Linked DNA regions of Homo sapiens. The protein of the gene in region 1 interacts with the protein of each later gene in a pairwise test. Each region holds a gene or a part of one and is shown in the gene's direction. Other genes may lie near its edges.

What was found.
Region 2: the proteins of KCTD4 (region 1) and FER interact in a two-hybrid assay, tested with the Homo sapiens proteins (one large-scale study listed by BioGRID and IntAct).
Region 3: the proteins of KCTD4 (region 1) and TNS4 interact in a two-hybrid assay, tested with the Homo sapiens proteins (one large-scale study listed by BioGRID and IntAct).

The regions. Positions count from the first base shown.
Region 1 is NC_000013.11:45,198,198-45,202,345, reverse strand, and holds the start of KCTD4 (BTB/POZ domain-containing protein KCTD4), read left to right. Parts: upstream 1-1,300; 5' UTR 1,301-1,522; intron 1,523-4,148.
Region 2 is NC_000005.10:109,191,754-109,194,627, forward strand, and holds part of FER (tyrosine-protein kinase Fer), read left to right. Parts: 3' UTR 1-2,874. UniProt on the Homo sapiens protein: Tyrosine-protein kinase that acts downstream of cell surface receptors for growth factors and plays a role in the regulation of the actin cytoskeleton, microtubule assembly, lamellipodia formation, cell adhesion, cell migration and chemotaxis.
Region 3 is NC_000017.11:40,498,782-40,502,912, reverse strand, and holds the start of TNS4 (tensin-4 precursor), read left to right. Parts: upstream 1-1,289; 5' UTR 1,290-1,379; intron 1,380-4,131. UniProt on the Homo sapiens protein: Promotes EGF-induced cell migration by displacing tensin TNS3 from the cytoplasmic tail of integrin ITGB1 which results in dissociation of TNS3 from focal adhesions, disassembly of actin stress fibers and initiation of cell migration.

The DNA.
Region 1 (4,148 bases):
GCGCGATCTTGGCTCACCGCAACCTCCGCCTCCTGGGTTCAAGCGATTCTCCTGCCTCTGCCTCCTGGGTAGCTGGGATTACAGGTATGTGCCACTGCGCCAGGCTAATTTTTGTATTTTTAGTGGAGATGGGGTTTTGCCATGTTGGCCAGGCTGGTCTTGAACTCCTGACCTCTGGTGATCCGCCCACCTCAGCCTCCCAAAGTGCTAGGATTACAGGTGTGAGCCACCACGCCAGGCCAAGAAGAGTTTTGAAGAATAAGCAATGATTGTGCTGGACCTTGAAAAATGGGTAGGATTTAGACTGGGGTGGGTGGGGGTAAGAAGGAAGAGTACTGAAGGTGGTAGGAATGGCCTCTGTGTGTCTGTGCTTGCTCGCTCTTGTGCTTGAAATGTTCAACTAAGGGGCTCACACCACCAATTACTAGAAGGACATGGTCTTGCCAGCACTCTGCAGAGAAGCCACACAAACTCATCCTACCAAAGGCTTTGGAATGGCTCAATTCATATCTTTTCCTTGGCCATTTGCTCTTCTTTGGATTCTGGGAAATAGTATGGGATTCTTTCTAAATTCTCCCCCGCACTCCTTTTTTGGCTAGATTGGTTTGTTGACTGGTTTCTGCTACTTGCAACCAAAAGAATCTTATTGAGTATGAACACACATCTTTGATGATGGTAATTTATGTATATCCCACCACCTAAAATCAGAAAAAACTCGAGAGAAAATTTTAAAGGTTATGTATATAAAGCACATCCTATAAAAAGAACTGAAGGCTTCTAGTTAAGATTCTGTCACTAAACAGCAGTGTTACTTTGGAGAAGTTATTTTACATCTCTGGGCCTCAGCATCCATAATAATGATATTACTAGAATGTCTGAGATCTCTTCTAGGTCTCTTTCACTAAATAAAAATGCTAGCCTTCCTCTCCAACTGGGGATGTTTTATTATTTCATTAGTGTTATTTTGTTTGCTCTAGTACTTTCCAAAAGACCTAGATATAATTAAATTTTCTTTGAATAGAAAGAGAATAACAAAATGTTAAGAAGCTGCCCAAGGCTTGAAAATATTTAAATTTGTGCTCTATGCTGGATTATCCTGCCCTATATCTGAACTTGACATACACTCTATGTCAAAGAACTGAGGAGAAATGATACTGGCACTTTTTTTAAAAAGTTAAGGGCATCCCTAGTTTGAAGAAGTTAAAGGAATAAGCAAGCAGCAACACTGCTTATTAGCATTGGCATGTAAGTAATGAAATCAAGTATGTTAGGAAGTCTTAGGCATCAGGAAGTTACACTCATTCATTTCCACAAGACCTTCTGGATCCAGCTGAATGTGGAGGCCTTTAAGAGAACTTCCAGCTCCTGTAAAAACCCAGACCAGAGGACTACTGACCAACATTTCAGGCTGATCCTCCAGACCTCGAAGTTACTCTCCTTACTCTCCTGACTCTTAATTACATCACACCTGTGTCGACACTCTCTGGGAAAAGACTGAAGAAATAATCTTTTCAAGAAGCAGGTACATTTAAAAGGCAAACCATTTTTAATATTCCTAGTAGTCTCCTTTCTTCTCATTTAAAATATGTTCCTAGAAGTTTTTTTGCCTGTGGTTCTGAGTTGAGGTCTACTAATAAAAGGTACTAGCATCTTAACAAACCAGTTAGGCAAACTTTCTATCCCTGTATTATTAAAAAGCTGCTCTTTACTTGTGAAGTAATATTCTGATCTCTATTTGATCTTCAGGAATTTTGCCACGCATGGTGGCTCACATCTGTAATCCCAACACTTTGGGAGGCTGAGGCAGCAGCATAGCTTGAGCCCAGCCTGGGCAACAAAGTGAGACCCAGTCTCCACAAAAAGATAAAAAAGTTAGCCAGGTATGGTGGGGTATGCCTGTGGCCCCAACTATACGGGAGTTTCCTAAGGCAGGAAGATCACCTGAGCCCAGGAGGTTGAGGTTGCAATACACTCCAGCCTGGGTGACAGAGCAAGACCCTGTATCAAAAAATAAAATTTAATTTTATAAAAGTTATAAAATAATTTGCCTAATTTTAACATCAAGCAGCCACATTGTTTTGTCTCTCCCTCTCTCTCTCATCTCCCTGCAAAATTCTTTCCCTCCTCCCTGTCTGTTAATTTTACTTTCTTGTGATACGGAGGGAATAGCTCACAGAGCTGCTCAAATATTTCATCAACTATAAGATGCTATCATTTGTAATAGCAACCATTATTTTACGTGCCACCAAGACAAAATACTGCTGCTAAACTTTGACAAGCTAACGATATTAAGATGTACCTCAGTTATAGAAATGGTAAATATGAAAAAAATGTGTGATATGATAGAGTTCTCCATCCCTAGTTTATAACTCCTCCCTACTCTGTAAGAAACCACATTTGCTCCCTTGAGCCATCACATCCTGTTCTCCTGTTCAGATCCTCTTCTCTCTTCTCCACACCACCTCATCACTGAAGACACAAGCAGATGTTAAGTGATGAGAAAATCAGAAGGAACAGTGGCAGGCGCTAGTATACGGTAACAGAGACCCTCTTTAGTCATTTACTTCCTAACTGTACTACCTTTACAAGAGTTTTCAAAGTTATGCCCTTCATTTTGAGATTGTAGATAATGGTTATTAGCTTAAAATATCTTCTTCCCAAAGAGAAAGTAAAATTGCATTTTGCCAAATAGCACTATAAAAATGAGTTCTGTACAATATTATAATTTTAATGTTCATTTGATGGCTTACATAAGTGCTATGCTCATCTGGTTACAATAGAATTTTCCAGTAAATAATAACGCACAGGTTATATTTCAAAAAAAAACTTCATTTTTAAAAAACTTAAGGTATGACTTCTGCTTACAAAATTATAAAACACAGGTTTCCCTGAAATACTCATTTTCCAAAGTACATGTAAAACATGAATTAATATGACTTATAAATTGTCAAGATTGCCTCTGTAGTGAAAATCAAAGAAATGTGGAATGGAATTTCACCTGAACTTCTGAGCTAGTCTGTTGTCTTTATTTGTGCTCCTTTTGACACATAGTGCCTTATGTTTTTCTATACTCCTCAAATGAAGCTAAAACATTTACCAATGTAGGCAATTTTCCTGGGCTTCCTTGAAGACGCAGTTCAACACTGCAAAATATTTACAGCTGTATTCTTTGGACTGCAATGACATGTTCACACGACCTTGTGGCCAGAGGTTACGTCCTATTAGTCCTAGGAAGGTTCAAGTACTTGGCACAGTTTGTGAGATGCTGTGGTCAATCAGTTACATAAAGTGGCTGCCATAGTACTTTTGTTAGTGTAATACCAGTAGCAGACAACATTTAGAGCAGATAAATTTTATATTTCAAAATAGAACTAAAATTTGGACACTCAAAAAGAATTACATTAACATGGGAAAATCCTTGATTCTTAAAACATGTCAATAATTAGACAGTGTAATTTTTATTTTTAACACACAAAAGAAGCCAACACAAAATATTCATACCTCAATATCAAAATGAATGTTTCTTACATTCAGTGCTATTGACAAGAGGCAATGAAGCAAGTACATGTTAAAAAAAAAGAAACTCAGCTTGTGAAAGGCAGAGGAAGGTCAAAACACAGATCAATAAACAAAAAAACAAAAAAAAAATGTGGGCAAGTCCAAGGCAGAGATATACTGTCAGATTTAAGTAAAAAGTTGACAGCAGCTTCTCTAGCTTTTACTTTCTTTCTAAGGTAATGGGAATGAAATCCTTTTAAAAGACAAGCAGAGAAGCATGCAGCTGACAACAACCAAGATTTGATAGCAGGGGAGAATGTGGAGACAGAAGCTCCCTGTTCTTATCAAACGCAGCTTCTAAAACCATTCCTTTTCCTTGAAGAGTGTCTGAATTTTATAGAGGAATGATCTGTTAAGTCTAGGAGAATTATCATACTTTTTGTATCTTCCAGTCGGGAGGGATAACCTCCTGGTAAGGTTTCACTTCCTTCCATGGCATGGGAGTATCTCTGGCATATAAATGGAGCAAGTGTATATATTACAATGATGTCCTGCATCAATCACGGGATGACAAAGACCTCATTTCCCATAAGGAGTTGGTAAAAAGATGGGAATTCCTGCTGGAATGAGTTCTGCCTTATGCAGATGGT
Region 2 (2,874 bases), on another chromosome or scaffold:
CATTTATTTTTCTATGTTTTGATTAGTTTCACATCAAGTCTGAATACTATATTTTGGAAGAATCCAAAACCACATATGAAGATACTGATTTTAAAAGTCAGGATTTCATGTACCAAGAATGACCTACTTGAAGGAGATTTTGCTACACTCTTAGAGTCCCAAAAATTCCCCTTTAAAAAAAATGCTGTCCTACAGAAGGTGTATAAACTATACCTTAGCCATAATTCAATTTAATGAAATACTACCCCATTAAAAGCCATCCTCCTGCCTCATACCGATTCAGAAATTAAATTCTGAACTTTTAGTGTAGGCATTAGGAATCACTTAGCCACTTAATAAGGACTGAGATTCTTGGGTGGCAGAAAAATCCTGGTGTGCTAGATTCTTAGTCACTTTAAACTGCATAGAAGTAATGAGCATAGGCTTCAGTATATTTAATAAGGTGCTGAGGCAGCAGATTCAAATGCAAAAGAGGGAGGAACCAGTTATTCCAAGGCAGGATGATGCACCCCCACACAGAGTGTGGAAAAATTAAAGTGAAACAAAGATTTGGACAGTGTCATTAGGAAGCCTGAGGAGAACATGCTACAAGGCCAGATCCTGTCCTATGGAAAATAAAAAAGATCAGCAGAACTAAAGCAAAAGCAGTCATCTCCAGTGTGTGGGCCTTAGCAAAGAGTAAACCAAATACCTCTCCTTGTGTTAGGAGCACTGTTATATTCCCAGCTCAGAGATGATTGTGTGCTGGGAAATGCTTATATTCATTATTTCCCAACTAATGCATTTGGACATATGTATTCCAGTTTTTCAAAGACACTACCCAAAGCTTCTTTACATTTGCATTGGTTATATTTAATATTTCTTAAGCTAAGATCACTGATTATCCACACGTTATTAGAAATCTTTGGTTACAGTGAGGCTTAACCTGGGCTAAAGTCTCCTAAATGGGACTACACTTAGATCCGCCCTATTTCACCTTTGGACTAACGTTGACTAAATGGCTCCTAGAGTTACCCACAGAGGGAGCTTACTATGATGAGAGCTACTGTGGGGAAACATAGTATTCAACAGAGAAATGGAAGAATACAAGTAGCAATGTTCCTTGTCTTCAATAACATTTGAGGGAAAGGAATCTAGAAATCCTAAAGCTTAGTCAGGGTGCCTAAGGTAAGACACAAAAAGAAAGAGACATCCAGAAAGGAAGGTTGAAAGGAAATGAAGGGCAGTAACAAAGCACCAATGTAAAATGACCCATAGCCAACAATAAATGCAATAACAATAAAGGAAACTAACCCTCACAAAGGGTTTGAGGAGCTTCCTGCTGTGTGTCCTTAAACAGTGCGTGCCTCTTAAGTCTCTACAACACTTTTTTAAAGGGCATTGAATTGGACATTGGTTTAATTTTTACCTACGCTCCCTATAATCTCAGGAGGTAACCATTATTTAATCAGAATTACCCTTGCTCTGTTTATCTGTGAGGCCTCAGACACAACGGTGGTTCAGCCCTCTCCCTAAGCAGTAGCAAGCTGAGTAATGGCACACATATGTCTAGGATAGCCAGCATTCAGGAAAATTGCTGTGAACCTCCTGTTTTTAATTTTAATATAGAAAAAGTCTTTCAGGTTTGTGACACGAAGACAGATTTAGCTTCCCACTTGTCAGCAAATTTGTAAAAACCTCAAAACAAATGAATATTTGGAATTCACTCTAAGAGATACAAATCCTGAATTTCTAACTATCTTCTCAAATATTACTGAGGCCAGCAAGATGCAAGTGTTCTACAAAATAATGAACTGTTCTAAGTGACAGTGTTGATGCTGGAAGTGGAATGTTATGTTTTCGCTCAGCTGTATTCATTCAGAAAGTTTTTCTTGAACATCTGCCACATGAGGTGCAGAGAATACTACCAGGTGCTAGTTTTTCCAGTATTTGACTTCTGATTACTATTTCCTTTTCTCATCTTTAGTTTTTCAAGATTTTGCTTTACCAAAATAGTAAAGCCTTTATCATCAGCTTATATTGAATAATGTTGTAATTGGTTTCAATCAAAGTTTCTCCTCAGGTACTTGGGGGCCCCTAGCCTTCTAAGGAACTCCCAGGCACCTACTTAACAAGGCCAGCTACACACTCAGTATGTGATAAGCCCCATGATGGATGCAGGTTAGAATTCAAAGACCTGGTTGGAGTCCTAGATGTGGAGACAGGATGATCAGGTCACACTTGTTAGATGACTAACACTATCAGTAGAAGCTCTTGAGAGATTTTCCTAACGCAGCAAGATTTCTGTGAGTAGAGGTATCCTGGGAGGTATCCTGGGAGGCAGCCTATTGACTTGACCAAGTAAGCTGATCAGGTGGCCTCCTCTACCCACTAAAGAAATGTGTAAACACTAGCAATAATTGCTTTATCTTAAACTCCTGGACATACTCAGTTCTTCCATTCCACTGTTCTATTGCCAATACCTTTTGTTGTTTTCTTCACACTCCTCTTGGCAGCAAATGTCTGAAAGTATTTCAATTGTGTAATGTTAAGGAGTTTTTTCATAGCTTCAGAAAAGAGGGCAGCAAATATGAAGCCTTAAGTTCAAAATAAGTCATTCTACCTAGAAATACAGACCCCAGAGCACATTGCATGAAAATACCTGTACTCTGCAGTTCCTCAAAGCAGTATTCTTCCTGAAAAGCCAAACACCACACCTATTTTCCTATTTGCTAAGAATCAGAATAAGCACGTTGTAAATAGTATCCAAAGCAGATTCTAAAATGACATAGTAAGAAGCCAGATTCAAATTGTAACCAAAGAAGACAATAGAAATCCCACTTTACCCCACTGTCATCAGTTAGAACACCCTTGCAAAAACTGTAACCACTTAAG
Region 3 (4,131 bases), on another chromosome or scaffold:
TGCCACAGTCTCTGCCCAACACTTCGCCCTACTGTAACCTGCCCCTTCCACTCAAGAAACTCACGAGTCGCCCCTCCCACTCTCCCACAATCATGAGCCACAGCCTCATGGGGGAAGCCGCCATGTGCAGTGACATCCACTCCAGGGCAGGAGCACCACATTTTTCATCCAAAGACATAATTGCTCATCAAGCCATGTGCCAACAAGGCTGCATGGACACCTAGGGACACCTTTTATGTCACCATCAGGAAGGGGCACCTTATATAACTTTCCATAGCTTTGCTCACCGGCCTCCCATGCACTAGTTCACCATGCCTCAGTGAAACCCCAGGGCATCAAAAACTGTAAGGCCAGAAGCCCTTCCACTGGGCATAATGGGGGCATGGGGCAACCCACCCCTGAGATTAGCCTACTGGGATCACCATGAGTCCCTGGGCTGGAGACTTCGCCAGCTCCCTCACTTCAGACCGCTCCCAGACCAGGCTCTGCCATCAGCACCCTCCCCTCACCATGTCTGAACACCTCCTTACAACATTCTAGGACCCCTGCCCCTCTAGAACAGGGAGAGAGTTGGAACCATGGAGAAGGAGCTACCAGACCAGACTTCTGGGCTTCCTGATCTCACCCTCCAATGTCCTCCCCTCAGGGAACTTCCACCCTGGGGCACAGACCAGACGAGGGACAGAGATAGCCCATGAGTGAAGGAACAGCTATAAGCCCCTTCTCAAAGCCCTCCAGACACTTCAGCCTCCTTTCCTTGAGTTAGAGGCCCCATCCCAAGCTAGAGTCATTACTGTAAAAGGAGAGAAAGAAGAAAAGACAAGCTCGTGCCTAGCCTTACTTCCAGTGGGCCCTTACCCTGTGCCTGTCCCAGTGTGACCCAGCACAAAGGGGGACTGCAGAGGGTCTCCTGCCCACTGGCATCCTGCTTTGTCAAGGCCCTCACTCTCTGCCAGCTCTGCCAACCCATGGCCTCTGCCCCAGCCAGCACCTGAGGAGTGCCCACTGCACACCTTGATTCTAGCTATGCCCTGTCCAAGCAAGGACTCCCTGGCCATGTGGTGCCACGAGAAGCCCAAGCAGGAACTTGGGAGCCCCTCACACACACCCAGACCCAAAACCCACCACCCAGTGCTTCCCTTCCTGCTGCCTGTGCCAGCCCCACCTGAGCTCACTGGATCCAGCAGGGGTGGGGCCTACTGCTGTCAGGGCCACGTGCAGGGCCCGCCCGGAGGGGAGGAGAGAAGGCGGGCAAGCTGCTTTTAAGGCAGGTCTGGAGGTGAACTGGCGCCTCTCCTGACTCTTCACCTGGACTCTGAGTCGTCTTGGTCCCAGGAGCCAGTAGTGAAGGCAACAGTCTGCCCACCTGTGGACACCAGGTAGGTGCCTTTATTCTTTAAGAAGAGAGGAACACGGAGCACCTTTGCTGGCCCTGATTCATTTAAACATTTTTTTTTTTTTTTTTGAGATGGAGTCTTGCTCTGTCACCCAAGCTGGAGTGCAGTGGCGCGATCTCGGCTCACTGCCAACGTCTGCCTCCAGGGTTCAAGCGATTCTCCTGCCTCAGCCTCCCAAGTAACAGGGATTACAGATGTTTGCCACCATGCCCGGCTAATTTTCTTATGTTTAGTAGAGACGCGGTTTCACCATGTTGGCCAGGCTGGTCTCAAACTCCTGACCTCAGGTGATCCTCCCACCTTAGCCTCCCAAAGTGCTGGAATTACAGGCGTGAGCCCAGCCTCATTTAACCTTTTGTCTTCAGCTTCTCCATTTCTCAGGGCTCAGAGTGAAGGTGGGGAGAAATGGGGTGGAGGATGTGGATGAGACAGAGATGGTCTCAGGATCACAGACCGCGGAGTTCAGCAGTTCAAGGGAACTAAACCTGTGCCCCTCGGCAAATAGATGAGAGAGCTGAGGGCCACAGAGAAGAGGCTTGCCTGAGGTCATGGAAAGGGACTGGACACAGAACCCAGGCCTCTCGCCTCCCAGCGCTCTGGGAGCCCTCTGGGCACTTCAGAGGTAGACAGGACTGGGAGATGGGGCGGCTGGCCTTCACTGGTCCTATGGGTCCCTGCCTGAGGTCCACGTCCTGCGTCACCGGGTCTGGGTGGGAGGGATGGGAAGATCGGGAGCCAGTTTTCAAAAATAGGGGGTGCAGTGGAGATTGGGCTAATGAGGCAAAGTGCTTTGGGGGAGACTCAGGCTTTACCCTTGCCCCACCCTCTCCCTTCACTGACCTGGGCTCATTGGGAGAGAGTAAGTCAGGAGAAGAGGTTGGCAATGACACGGAAGAGGGGATTTGCCAAGGCACCAGGACTCCCCAGAGTCCTTGGGAACAAAGAAAGAGATCTGAGTCAGAATCAGAAGTGGGAGCGGGTAGGGGGCACCTACAAATAGAGCAGAGGTGGCTGGAGCCCTCCTTGCCCCCGCCCCGTGCCTCCCAACCACACAGAGCCCCGGGCCCAGGGACTCTCCCCACCACTTACAGCAAGAAAGAGCAAGTTAGAGGAGTGTGCGGGGCCGCGAAGGGGGCAGCATTCAGGAATACAGGAGTAAGATGGAGCCCTGCCTTGGTACATCCAAGGGCGACGCAGAGCCTTAAAAGTGAGGGGAGGCTGAAGAGGAGCGTAGGGGCTGCCTGCCCTTTGCTCAGCTCCAGGTCTGTCCCTCTTGGTTCCAGAATCCCAGAAGGGGCAGCGGTGGACAGGGTTCTTAAATATGTGAAGCAGCAGCAGAGGCTAAAAGTGTGGGACCGTGGAGCAAGACCACCTGGGTTTAAACCCCAATTCACAGTTGGGGTTGTATGACCTTGGGCAAATTCCTCAACCTCTCCAGCCCTGCAGCAATAGCACCCTCCTCAGAGAGCTGTTGAGAAAATGCAAGGTGTTCAGTGTCTGTTATTATCACATCCCCATCACACAGATGGGACAACTGAGGTCTGCCCAGAGAGGAAAGGACGCTTGCCCAGCGTGGCACAAAAGCTGTGTCCAAATTAGTAAGCAGGTATACTGGGTCCTGGTTGCGAGGGGACACCCAGCCCTCCTTGAGCTCTGCAAAGTCAGCAGCCCCAGCCTCCTCTGCAGGACACAGCCAGAAAACCCTGCAGGGAGCGCCCAGATCCTGTCCCAACAAACCCAGTCCACTTGGAGCCTGTGTGGAAAAAGCCGTGGTTCCGGCTCTGTGTCCTCAGCTGTCCCGGGAGGGCGGGAGCGCAGAGGCCGGCTCCCTTCCACTTCCATTTATAGAAAGCTTCCCGTGCCCGGGATGCCCCGCCCCCTGCAGGACCTGGCCAAGGAAAAGTCTGGCATCAGACCTACCGGAGCCACGGGCGTTGGGGGAGGCAGGAGAGGGGAAGGGGCCCTGGCTTTTCTCATGAAACCTGTGCGACCTTCAGCCAATCATGCCCCCTCTCTAGATCCCAGGTGTCCCTCTGCACTTGAATTCCATGTGGCATTGTAGCAGGACGAGCCGCAGACAAAACTCCTCAGACACCAAGTTAAAGAAGGAAGGGGTTTATTCGGCCGGGGGCATCAGCAAGACTCCTGTCTCAAGAGCCGAGCTCCCCGAGTGAGCATTTCCTGTCCCTTTTAAGGGCTCACAACTCTAAGGGGGTGCGTGTGAGAGGGTCGTGATCAATTGAGCAAGCAGGGGGTACGTGACTGGGGGCTGCACGCACCGGTAATTACGTGGGAACAAAACAGGAAAGGGATTTTCACAGTGCATTTCTATACAATGTCTGTAATCTATAGATAACATAACCGATTAGGTCAGGGGTCGATCTTTAACTACCAGGCCCAGGGTGTGGCGCTGGGCTGTCTGCTTGTGGATTTCATTTCTGCCTTTTAGTTTTTACTTTTTCTTTCTTTGGAGGCAGAAATTGGGCATAAGACAATATGAGGGGTGGTCTCCTCCCTTAGCATAAGGAATTAAGATTCCAAAATCCCACACCTGGGTTTGAATCCCAGCTCCACCATCTTTCTGGATGTGAAGCGTGTTTCTTGACCTCTCCGAGTCTCAGCATCTTCATCTGTAAAATGGACTGACAACTCAAAATAAATAAATAAGGCCAGGCACAGCGGCTCACACCTGTAATCCTAGCACTTTGGGAGGCCGAGGAAGGAGGAGCACTTG